Linked DNA regions of Homo sapiens: region 1 is linked to region 2. The links come from fine-mapping of genetic effects on plasma protein levels. A gene starts in region 2. The other region holds a variant in brackets. All regions are shown on one strand. Distances are from middle to middle.

Region 1 (5,451 bases), 11 kb after region 2:
AGCGATCCTCCTGCTTTGGCCTCCCAAAGTGCTGGAATTAAAGGCATGAGCCACAGAGCCTGGCCCTGACACAAATATTCATGTAAGAGGTTAAGAAAATCTTAAAGGTAACCAAAAATTAATGAACCCCCAAAGTGTTTCTGAAACTTGGGTATACTAACCTGTTGTTTACATGATAAACTGGGCTAAACAAATACATCAACTATACGTACATCCTATTTTCAGAGTTTCGACAATTTCACTTGCCTAAAGCATCATTTATTTTAGTTCAAAGATAATTTTATTTTCATTTTTATTTTGAGACAGGGTCTCGCTCTGTTGTCCAGGTTAGAGTGCAGTGGCATGATCATGACTCACTGCAGCCTTGACCTCTCAGGCTCAAGCGATCCTCCCACCTCACTTCCTGAGTAGCTGGGACTACAGGCCTGTGCTACCATGCCTGGCTAATTAAATAAAATGTTTTTGGTAGAGTCAGAGTCTCACTTTGTTGCCCATGCTCCTGGGCTCAAGTAATCCTCTTGCCTCAGCCTCCCACAGTGTTGGAATTATAGTCGTGAGCCACTGTGCCCGACCCAAAGATAATTTTAAAAGCATCATTTAAGTGTGAATTTAATAAAATTAAAATTTATAATATTCACTGAAGGCAGAGATTAGAGTGAGACATCTACTTAATAGGTAATACTTAAAAACAAACTGTGGAGCCATAAGGAACACCTTACCCTAATCCTAAATCAAGTGATTTGGATTTATTTTGCTTATTACATTACATTGTTTAGACAATTCTTTAATCTTGTACTTGTTTATTGAATATATTTTTTAGTTCTGTTATGATCGATTTATCAATAGCCGCAAGAAAATTGGCTTCAGAACAAAAACTCTTTTCTTTGTGTTGTTAAATAAAATGTATGAGAGGCCATGGTTTTGAACTGAGCCCCTGCATTAGGTCGCAACAGATTGAACCAAAATGGGGTCGCTCGTGCTAAGTAATCGAACTGTAATCAAACTGAAACGTAAACGGGAAAATTCCCAAAATAGACTGGCTTTTCGTAAAAACAAGAGATTCACAGCAAGCAATCAGAAAGGGCCCAGTCAGCCTAAGTCAGCATGTTAAGGAAGTCCTCTCTGCTTTAACCCTTTATAAGTAAAGTAACCTGAAGTAAACTGATGTTAACCAATTCACTTTTTGTATTCCTGTTTCCCTATTTCTGTTCAAGCTACCTTAGGAAAACCAACTGGTCTGCCAGGCTCATTGAAGCTCCCTCTATTTTGATTAGCAACTGCCTGTTTTATGAGTCACTAATAAAAGCCAATTAGACATTTTAATCAATTTTGTTGATTTTTTTTTTCTTTTTTTGAGACAGAGTCTTGCTCTGTAGGCCAGGCTGGAGTGTAGTGATGCAATCTCGGCTCACTGCAACCTCTGCCTCCCTGCCTCAGCTTCCCGAGTAGCTGGGATTACAGGCATGTGCCACCAGGCCCACATAATTTTTGTAGTTTTAGTAGAGACGGGGTTTCGCCACATTAGCCAGGCTGGTCTGAAACTCCTGGCCTCAGGTGATCTGCCTGCCTCTACCTCCCAAAGTGCTGGGATTACAGGCGTGAGCCACCGGGCCCAGTCAAATTTTTTTTTTTTTTAATCAACGTATATCAAGGAAACTAAAGGGGTACAAACCATTCAGTGAACAGAAATACACTAGTATCAAGGTTTTGACAGAGATGACATTTACTATTTTTAATCTTTCCAACAACTCTATGAAAAAGGTGCTACTTCCTACTTTCAGCCTGAGGAAACGTTGGTACAGATATTTTGAGTAATTTCTCGGGATCACATAAGGCAGTGAGGGTGGAGTCAGGTTTGATCTTGGGCACTCAGACCTACACTAAGTTATCCTGCTTTTCAAATTCACTCCTTGTCCTCCTTTTCCTCCTCATCTGCAGTGATGACGGATGCATGTGTGTTTTCCACAAGCAGTTGCTCTTTGCCCTGTCTGGTGTCACACCACGTTTACATCCTCTTTCTAAATCTAGGCATCGTTGACAGTAAATATCCTACTGGGTCAAGAGCTAGAATCACCCTCGGGGATTTACAGTACTCCATCTGTCACTTATGAGCAGCAATCTACCTCCAGGTTAAGAAAGGTAGGTTTCTTCTTGAAAGTAAATGCAGGGTTTATTCAGCACCCAGGACATAAAGGCTTAGTGAATTTTTATCAGAGGAACATGGGACTAATAATTTAAAGATCCAGTAGGGAAAGTAATGTTTGCTGGATATTGCAGATTTCATCTTTTAATAATAAAGGAATAGTTCCTCTTTTCCCGCTGGAACCATGGAGAGTGTCAAAGAGAAGAAGAAAAAGTTTCCTGCTGTACCAGAAACCCTTAAGAAAAAGCGAAGAAATTTCACAGAGCTGAAGATCAAATGCCTGAGAAAGAAGTTTGCCCAAAAGATGCTTCGAAAGGCAAGGAGGAAGCTTATCTATGAAAAAGCGAAGCACTATCACAAGGAATATAGACAGATATACGGAACTTAAATTTGAATGGCAAGGATGGCAAGCAAAGCCGGCAACTTCTATGTACCTGCAGAACCCAAATTGGCATTTGTCATCAGGATCAGAGGTATCAGTGGTGTGAGCCCAAAGGTCCGAAAGGTGTTGCAGCTTCTTCGCCTTCGTCAAATCTTCAGTGGAAACTTTGTGAAGCTTAACAAGGTTTCAATTAACATGCTGGGGATTGTAGAACCATATATTGCAGGGGGTACCCAAATCTGAAGTCAGTAAATAAACTAATCTACAAGCGGGGTTATGGCAAAATCAATAAGAAGCGAATTGCTTTGACAGATAACGCTTTGATTGCTCGAACGCTTGGTAAATATGGCATCATCTGCACGGAAGATCTGATTCATGAGATCTATACTGTTGGAAAATGCTTCGAAGAAGCAAATAACTTCCTGTGGTCCTTCAAATTATCTTCTCCATGAGGTGGAAAGAAGAAAAAGACCACCCATTTTGTAGAAGGTGGAGATGCTGGCAACAGGGAGGACCAGATCAACAGCTTATTAGAATAATGAACTAAGGTGTCTACCATGATTATTTTTCTAAGCTGGTCAGTTAATAAACAGTACCTGCTCTCAAAAAAACAAAGAATAACTTTTCTTCAAATATCTGGTCAATGAATGATA[T/C]TGTACAGAAGAAACTCAGGGAGCATCCTACCTGAAATTTTATTAACAAGTAACTTTTATTTAAAAATTATCAAATAAAATGCAAATTATCTGCATTTTTCCTATTTATTTCCTGTGATCATATAAGAAAATTAGGCAACACATATGGCGTTTTGGACTTTCTAAGAACTTGCTAAGTTTGTGAGACAAAATGTCATGAGGAGCAGCGGCATCCTAGCCAAGGCTGCCTGCTTCCACTGCCCTTAGTTACAGCCCACGCTGTATCCGGATCTCAAACTCTCCATGTTAAGTGTCCTAAGAATTTTTTTTTTGTCCTCCAGCTCCGATGAAGATGCAATGGGGTCTCTTCTTCAGTCTTCCCTGTCAAAAACATCACTTCAACTTCCAGCTTTGGAACTGAGCAGTTAAAAAAATTATTGCACACAATTAAATATTTTAAAACAATTAAAAGTATTGCATATCAATATCGACGTTCTCTTTTGAAATAAGTTGAATGGAAGTTACTTTTTAGTAGTGCGGCAAAGGATAGAATCCATTTTTCCCCTTGCTCTTTCGTTTAAAGATAATTTTCAAATAAAGTTATCTATTAATAAAAATCTAGCTTATGTCTCCCTGGCGCCCTCTCTCTTCCCTCCGAACAGAAAGGGCAGAATCTCTGCAGCCTCCGCAGGGGCCGGGATGCGCAGGTTCAGCGGACAGATCTCTCTCCCACCTGGGACCCCATCGCCAACGCGCCAGCGCTCCAGTGGGGCTATGCGCCAGAGCGGAATCCGCCGCAAGGGGGCGCGCGGGTGCAGCCGGAGGTGGGAGCGAGCGGCTCTGCACGCAGCTTCGGAGGTGCTGGGGTATGTGGGGCTGCGGGGCTAGGTCTGGGCTGCACGGCCCTGGGGGCGCCACGGGGGCGCTTTCTCTTCCCTCTGCAGCCTGCGGAGTGGCGGGGGCAACCCCTTCCTAAGCTGTTTTCCCTCTCTCGGGCTTCTAATTTTTATTTTTATTTTATTTTATTTTATTTTGTTACTTTAAGTTCCAAGATACATGTGCAGAACGTGCAGGTTTGTTACATATGTATGCATGTGCCCTGGTGGTTTGCTGCACCTATCAACCCATCATCTAGGTTTTAAGCCCCATATGCATTAGGTATTTGTCCTAATGCTCTCCGTCCCCAGGGGCTTCTAATTTTTTTTTGTTGTTGTTGTTGAGACGGAGTCTCGCTCTTGTCGCCCAGGCTGGAGTGCATTGGCACGATCTGGGCTCACTGCAACCTCCGCCTCCCGGGTTCAAGCGATTCTTCTGTCTCAGCCTCCCGAGTAGCTGGGATTACAGGCTCCTGCCACCACGCCCTGCTAATTTTTTTTTTTTTTTTTTTTTTTAAACAGGAGTTCACCATTTTGGCCAGGCTTGTCTCGAACTCCTGACCTCAAGTGATCCACCTGCCTCGGCCTCCCAAAGGGTTGGGCCGCGACTTACAGTCGTGAGTCACCGCGCCCGGCCTGGGGCTTCTCATTTTTAAAAGGTATCCAACACGCCTCCCTCCGCACACTCCGCTGGATCTCCAGCGACCCAGCCGGGCTTCAGACAAAAAACGGGCAGCAGGGATGTTCGCAGTCACAAGGACCAGACCAGCCTGCCCCTCACCTGCTACCCCTTTGCCAATAGTGTTTTGTTTTTTGGAGGGGAGGGGGAGGGAGTAAAACATATGTAACATGAACTTTACCATTTTAACCATTTTTAAGTAGTGTGTGATCGACTGGCATTAAGTGCATTCACAATGCTGTGGAGCCATCTCCACTGTCCGTCCCCAGACCATATTCATCATCCCAAACTGCAACCGCAACCGTGAAACACTAATTCCTCATTCTCCTTTCTCCCAGCTCCAGGTAGCCTCTATTACATTCTACTTTCTATCTCTAAGACTTTGTCTACTCTAGGTACTTACTACAAGTGGAATCATATAATATTTGTCTTTGTGTTACTGCCTTATTTCACTTGGCCTATGTCCTTAGGGTTCATCCATGTGGTAGCACTTGTCAAAATTTCCTTCCTTTTTAAGGAAGGAATAATATTCCCTTGTATGTAGAACACCACATTTTGTGTACCATTCATCTGTTGATGGACATTTGGGTTGTTGGCTGTAGTGAATAATGCTGCTATGAACATGGGTGTACAAATACCTGTTTGAGTCCCTACTTTTAATTCTTTTGTGTATATACCTAGAAGTGGAATCATGGTAGTTCTCTTTAACTTTGTGAGGAACCGCCACAGCTGCTGCACCT
Region 2 (5,000 bases):
ACATTCATTCAACCAATATTTATTGAGGCTCCACTACATATATAGTGAACTATAGTAAGAAGGAGGGAAACAAAAATTAAAACACTGTTCCCTTTCTCATGGAACTGTGGGTGGGAGCTGGAAAGACACTGAACAAGTAATGAGTGTGGTATGTGCTAGACTAAAGGAATGAGTCCTATGGGCACACAGGAAGGACAAATCATTGTTAACCAGGTATGGGATGAATGGGGTGGGGAGGGCAAAGAAAGAGATGAAGGCCGGGCCTAGGTTTTTAATGTAGTTGATTAGAAGGTTAAGACAGAAAGGCAGAGGAAATGTTAAGTATTGTAAGACAAGCCTGGCACATTTGGTCTCCGGTAGGTACGGAAGACTGGATTTCAGGCCTCGACGCAGGAATGGAGACGGAAGAGACTGGCAGGGGCTGTCATTTTGTCACTAGGAGAATGTGCATGGAATTCCCTGCCTTATAATTGGGGAGGGCTAAACTTAAAGGATGTTAAGTAGCAGATCTGACAGGACTGAATTTGCTATAAAGTAAACCTTATTTCACGAATTAAAAGAGGGTATGGAGAGAGGCCAAATAAAACATGAGAGATCAGTTAGAAGGTGACCTCAACAATGCAGGCAAGAAAAGAAGACCGGAGAAGGCCACAGCAATAGGACTCGAGGGGCACTGCAGCTGAATTCAGCTCAACAGACACACTGGTCACCTATAATCTGGCACTGGGAAAGAAAGAAGTGGTGGCGACAACAGCTTCTATCTAAGAATCCTAGATCCCCAAGGTTGTAGCCAGATCTAACAAATCTTAACAAATCAACAAAAATTTCTATTTTAACTTAAGAAGTTAAAATCTTTATGCTAATCGAAACTATTAACGACGCTCCCAAAAGTTTCTGCTACTTGGGTACAGTGTTTTATAGGCACTTACCTGGTTTAAACAAATACATAATCACATGGAGATTTCACTGACACAGCAAAATCTATTTTAGTTCAAAGGTAATTTAAGTGTGAACTTAATAAACTTAAATATTATATTCAATTGAGGGAATTAGATGGGAGCACGTACTTAATATCTGAGACTTAAAAAAAAAATCCACTAAAAAGCCATAGTCAACACCTTGCCCTAATGTTAAATCAAATCGTTTGGATTTACAATTCTTGTTCTATTGAGTAATTTTGACTTCTTACAAACATTTTATTATTAACATTTTCCAGAAAACTAGCTTCAACCACAAACTTCTCTTTCCACGTAGTATATCACACAAAACAAAAAAGTGTTGTAAACATTTCAGTGAGCAGAATACACTATCTAGGTTTGACAACAGCTGGCATTTTACTAGATTTAATCCTTCCAGCAAACCTATGAGGTACGTGCTACCACTATTCCTATTTTTTGACTCAGGGCATGTGGGCACAGAGATTCTGAGTAACTTTCCCAAGATCCCTGGTGATGACAGAGCCAGATTTGACCCGCAGCAGGCAGAACTCCTTCCCACTCATACTGTCATACAAAATAGCTGTTTTTTTCAGGTTTGTTGTGTGCAGTTTTAGCTGTTGATTACTTATGCTAGTAAGTTAAAATTATGTCCAATGATGCTTTTGGTTTAAAGAAAAATAGCTGTTTTCAAAAACTGCTGGTCTTTCTCCTGCCTGATGTTGACACCATGTTTTCTTTCTCTGTGTTTAGCTATCTCTGACCGCCGGAGGCTGTGTCTTCTCTGTCAAAGGCTGGAATCGACCTCCCAGGTGTGCGGGCTCTGTCCCCGACTTAGGACCGGCGTCCTACCTCCAGGCTGAAGACTGGACAAAAGCGGTGACAATCTTCCCGGTCTAACCAGGACTGCAGGAGACGGGGATTCCCGGGATGCGCGACTTTTGAGGGCAAAACTGGGAAGTCCCAATAAGGACTTCGGATCAGGTTCTGATCAGGTTCAAACCAGAGCGAGTTGGTCGCCCAGTAAATTGTACCAAATGTTCCGCGGTAATAACTAACGACAGTGCATGATATAAATAAATGCGATAGACAGTGTTTTTAAACTACTCAAGAAATCAGCTACTTGTACCCAGAAGTCCCTCCATTAAATAACATTACTCTCCTTTTCTTCTTCCACGATTCAGGACTGTCCTGAGTCTGCCGCAAGTGACCAGAGGGGACGAAAGGTCCCAGGGCTGCACGTAACGAGCGGCTGCGACTCCCCAGTCCTCAACTTTGCTCTCAAGTGCGCTCCGAGCGTCACCCGGCGCTGTCCCCGCACCATCTCGTGACCCGACACAAACCACGGTGAGCAGGGGTCCCCGCCCCAGCACCCCATCCCCCATCGTCAACGCCGACCCCAACCCCGACAGTGCGCGCGCCGCCGCACTCACTTGTAGGGCACCGGCCAGTGGCGCCGGGAGGGGATGCCCGAGACCCGGGACCAGCCCGGAACCACCGCGAGCCAAAGCAGCGCCAGGGCCCAGCACCAGGAAGCGCGTCCCCGAGCCGCGCCCGCGCCCCGCCGCATCTCGGCGCCCTGTGCCGTGTCTACCTCCTGCGCCATCAGGCTGCACCCAGTACTTCCGGAGCCTCTCGAGGCCTGCGACGCCGGTGGGAGGAGCATGCGCGGAGCCGCCAGTCCGGGACGCGGGGCGCCTTGCCCCTGCGCGTCAGCTCCAGAGCTTGGCCCCAAGCGCAGGTTCCGGCGCATGACACCTCCCCGCGCCCGGCCCGCGGCGGCTTCCACACTTTGCAGTCCAGGAAGGTGCTTTGGTCTGGCTCCCAGGAGAATTCGATCCAGACCTGGGGCGTCATCTTTTATGAATTGACCTGTCCTTGCCCAAAAGCCACCACCAAAACCAAAAATCTGTCACCGGGGCTCCTCCCAACACCGAACTTTTACCCCATCCCACAGGGCCCACGCTAGGTGTCAACAAACGTTGAGTGAACGAGAATGTGTATTTGGAGCTGAGGGTGCAGGGCTGGGGGTGCAGTGAGGAAGAAGGGACAATAGTGCGGAAATGGCTCGTCGTCACCCGACCTGGGCCAGTCATAACAGTGGTTAACACTGACAATATGTGGTCCCTGCCACTCCCCAAGTGCTTAGTGGGGAAATGACTCGTCCTCACTCGACCTGGGCCAGTGATAACAGTGGTTAACACCGACAATATGTGGTCCCTGCCACTACCCGAGTGCTGCCGAATCTACCCCCTCCCCTACCGCTCCCCTCACAGGCAGGTGTTCCTTGCTTGGATCTGTCACTTCACTGGAAAGAAGTTTCTGCATCACCTTCTCTTCTTTGACTCTTCAACTAGGTCAAGAAAACAATGGCATCAATTACCCGGCTTTTGAGGAGCCTCTTGTGGCATGCTTTGCTGTTAGGCACAAATACTGACTTAAGTCTATACGTAGTACATTCAGGGCCTTGCCATAGTCACTTGTTTTTACCAGACAGCAGTTTTGCAGGGCCTTAGACCGGGACTTTCCAATTCCTTCACTTCACCCACAACTCGTGTGAAGCATCATAATGTTTGTAAGCCTATGGGAATAAGCAAGGTGGCTTCGGTAGCCGGAGATGACCACCACAATCCATTGGAGGATATGTAGCTTGTGGGGGTGTCACTGACTTCCTTGGGCCCTCCAGGTCTCTTGATTACATATGGGACTCAGTACCCTGCCCCAAACACACACTCCTTTGCCCACTTGCTGCTCCAGGTTTGGGGGTTTTGCGGAGGTTCAGGCTGGGCTGCATTTTACCATACGTTTGTCTAAGCGTTTTGATAGCTACCTAGCTCTCCTCCGTATACTATGGCCAAATTCAAAATTACCAAGGCTAAACTGGCTTCTTCAAAGACCTGCCCAAGATAAGAGGGGGAAGCATTCTAGCCCTGAGAGCTGAAATGTAATGTCTGATTTGAAGGGCACCTGAAGGATTCCGTGGCCCCACACTTGAGCCTAGCTTAAAAAGCAATCAGCAGGAACAGCTTTAAAAAAAAAAAAAAACATTGATTAGAGCATTTACAAATCCTGGAACCATACACAGTATGATGTATGAGGGCCACAGTAGATGGCCTCAACAACCAGAGCCTCCGTGGCTGCCTGGAGAGCGGTGATGCAGGCAGCAGCTTCATGAGATATTTGCAGTTTAATCCAGTCATCTGCAAGCACAATCTGCCCATCAGATTGGACTTTCTTGGAGGCAAAGAGAAGCAACTGCAGTGGGGTGACTAAAGTCATGCCTTTAGCAGAGATGGCTCGAGTTCAAATCTTTTCACCAAATACAAAGAAGGGAGATAGGTACTTCATGTCTTGGCTACTAAAAGGACAATTAACAGTAGATGGTTCCAGGTTCCATCTACTGTTAGTAGAGGGCCACAGTAGAACCTCCCATTCAGTTCAGGACTTCCCAGAGCTACAAAAACAAATTCAGGTTGACCTTGTTCAGTGGTGGAGGCCTCTGGTCTTGCTTCTGCCATCTGTCTCTTCATTCTGTGTGCAGGGAGCTTTCATGGTAAGAAAGCACTTCCTAGTATTGGTTTTTATTTTTTATTTTTTTGGAGACGGAGTCTCCTTCTGTCACCCAGCCTGGAGTGCAGTGATGTGATTTCGGCTCACTGCAACCTCCGCCTCCCGGGTTCAAGCAATTCTCCTGCCTCAGCCTCCCTAGTGGCTGGGTACAAGTGTGTGCCAGTTGTAATTTTTTTTTTTTTTTTTGGTAGAGACGAGGTTTCACCATGTTGGCCAGGCTGGTCTCGAACTCCTGACCTCAAGTAATCCACCTGCCTCGGCCTCCAAAAGTGCTGGGATTACAGGCTGTAGTCACCATGCCTGGCCCTAGTATTGGTCTTAACTCAGCCTCCTGGTAGCTCCCATTCTTCTGGTCTGGTTTTGCCTTGGATGGGAACACTGATTAAACCCCATTCTTTTTGTCTATGACCCCACACCCCAAGCTGAAGGTGCTCATAGATTATCGCTGGTCGATACTGGTTGCTTCCCCCTTGTCCATGGCTTTTAAATCTTGAG

The links. A credible set is the group of variants that fine-mapping cannot tell apart. PIP is the chance, under the fine-mapping model, that this variant and not a neighbour inherited with it causes the effect. Sun 2018 read protein levels with aptamers (SomaScan).
Region 1: its variant is the best candidate, but not a certain one, in a credible set for the plasma level of the CLN5 protein (Sun 2018, PIP 0.52).

Annotation. Positions count from the first base shown.
Region 1 is chr13:76,978,793-76,984,243 of GRCh38, reverse strand. It overlaps the pseudogene RPL7P44. Among named protein-coding and RNA genes, the nearest start is that of CLN5, 11 kb to the left of the region's middle. The variant T/C (reference allele first, on the strand shown) is at 3,179.
Region 2 is chr13:76,989,640-76,994,639 of GRCh38, reverse strand. CLN5 (CLN5 lysosomal BMP synthase) reads right to left here and starts at 2,559. Exons shown (of 4, transcript NM_006493.4): 1 at 2,369-2,559. The coding sequence starts at 2,541. RefSeq lists an enhancer at 1,055-2,254 and silencers at 2,276-2,515, 2,976-3,045, 3,136-3,225.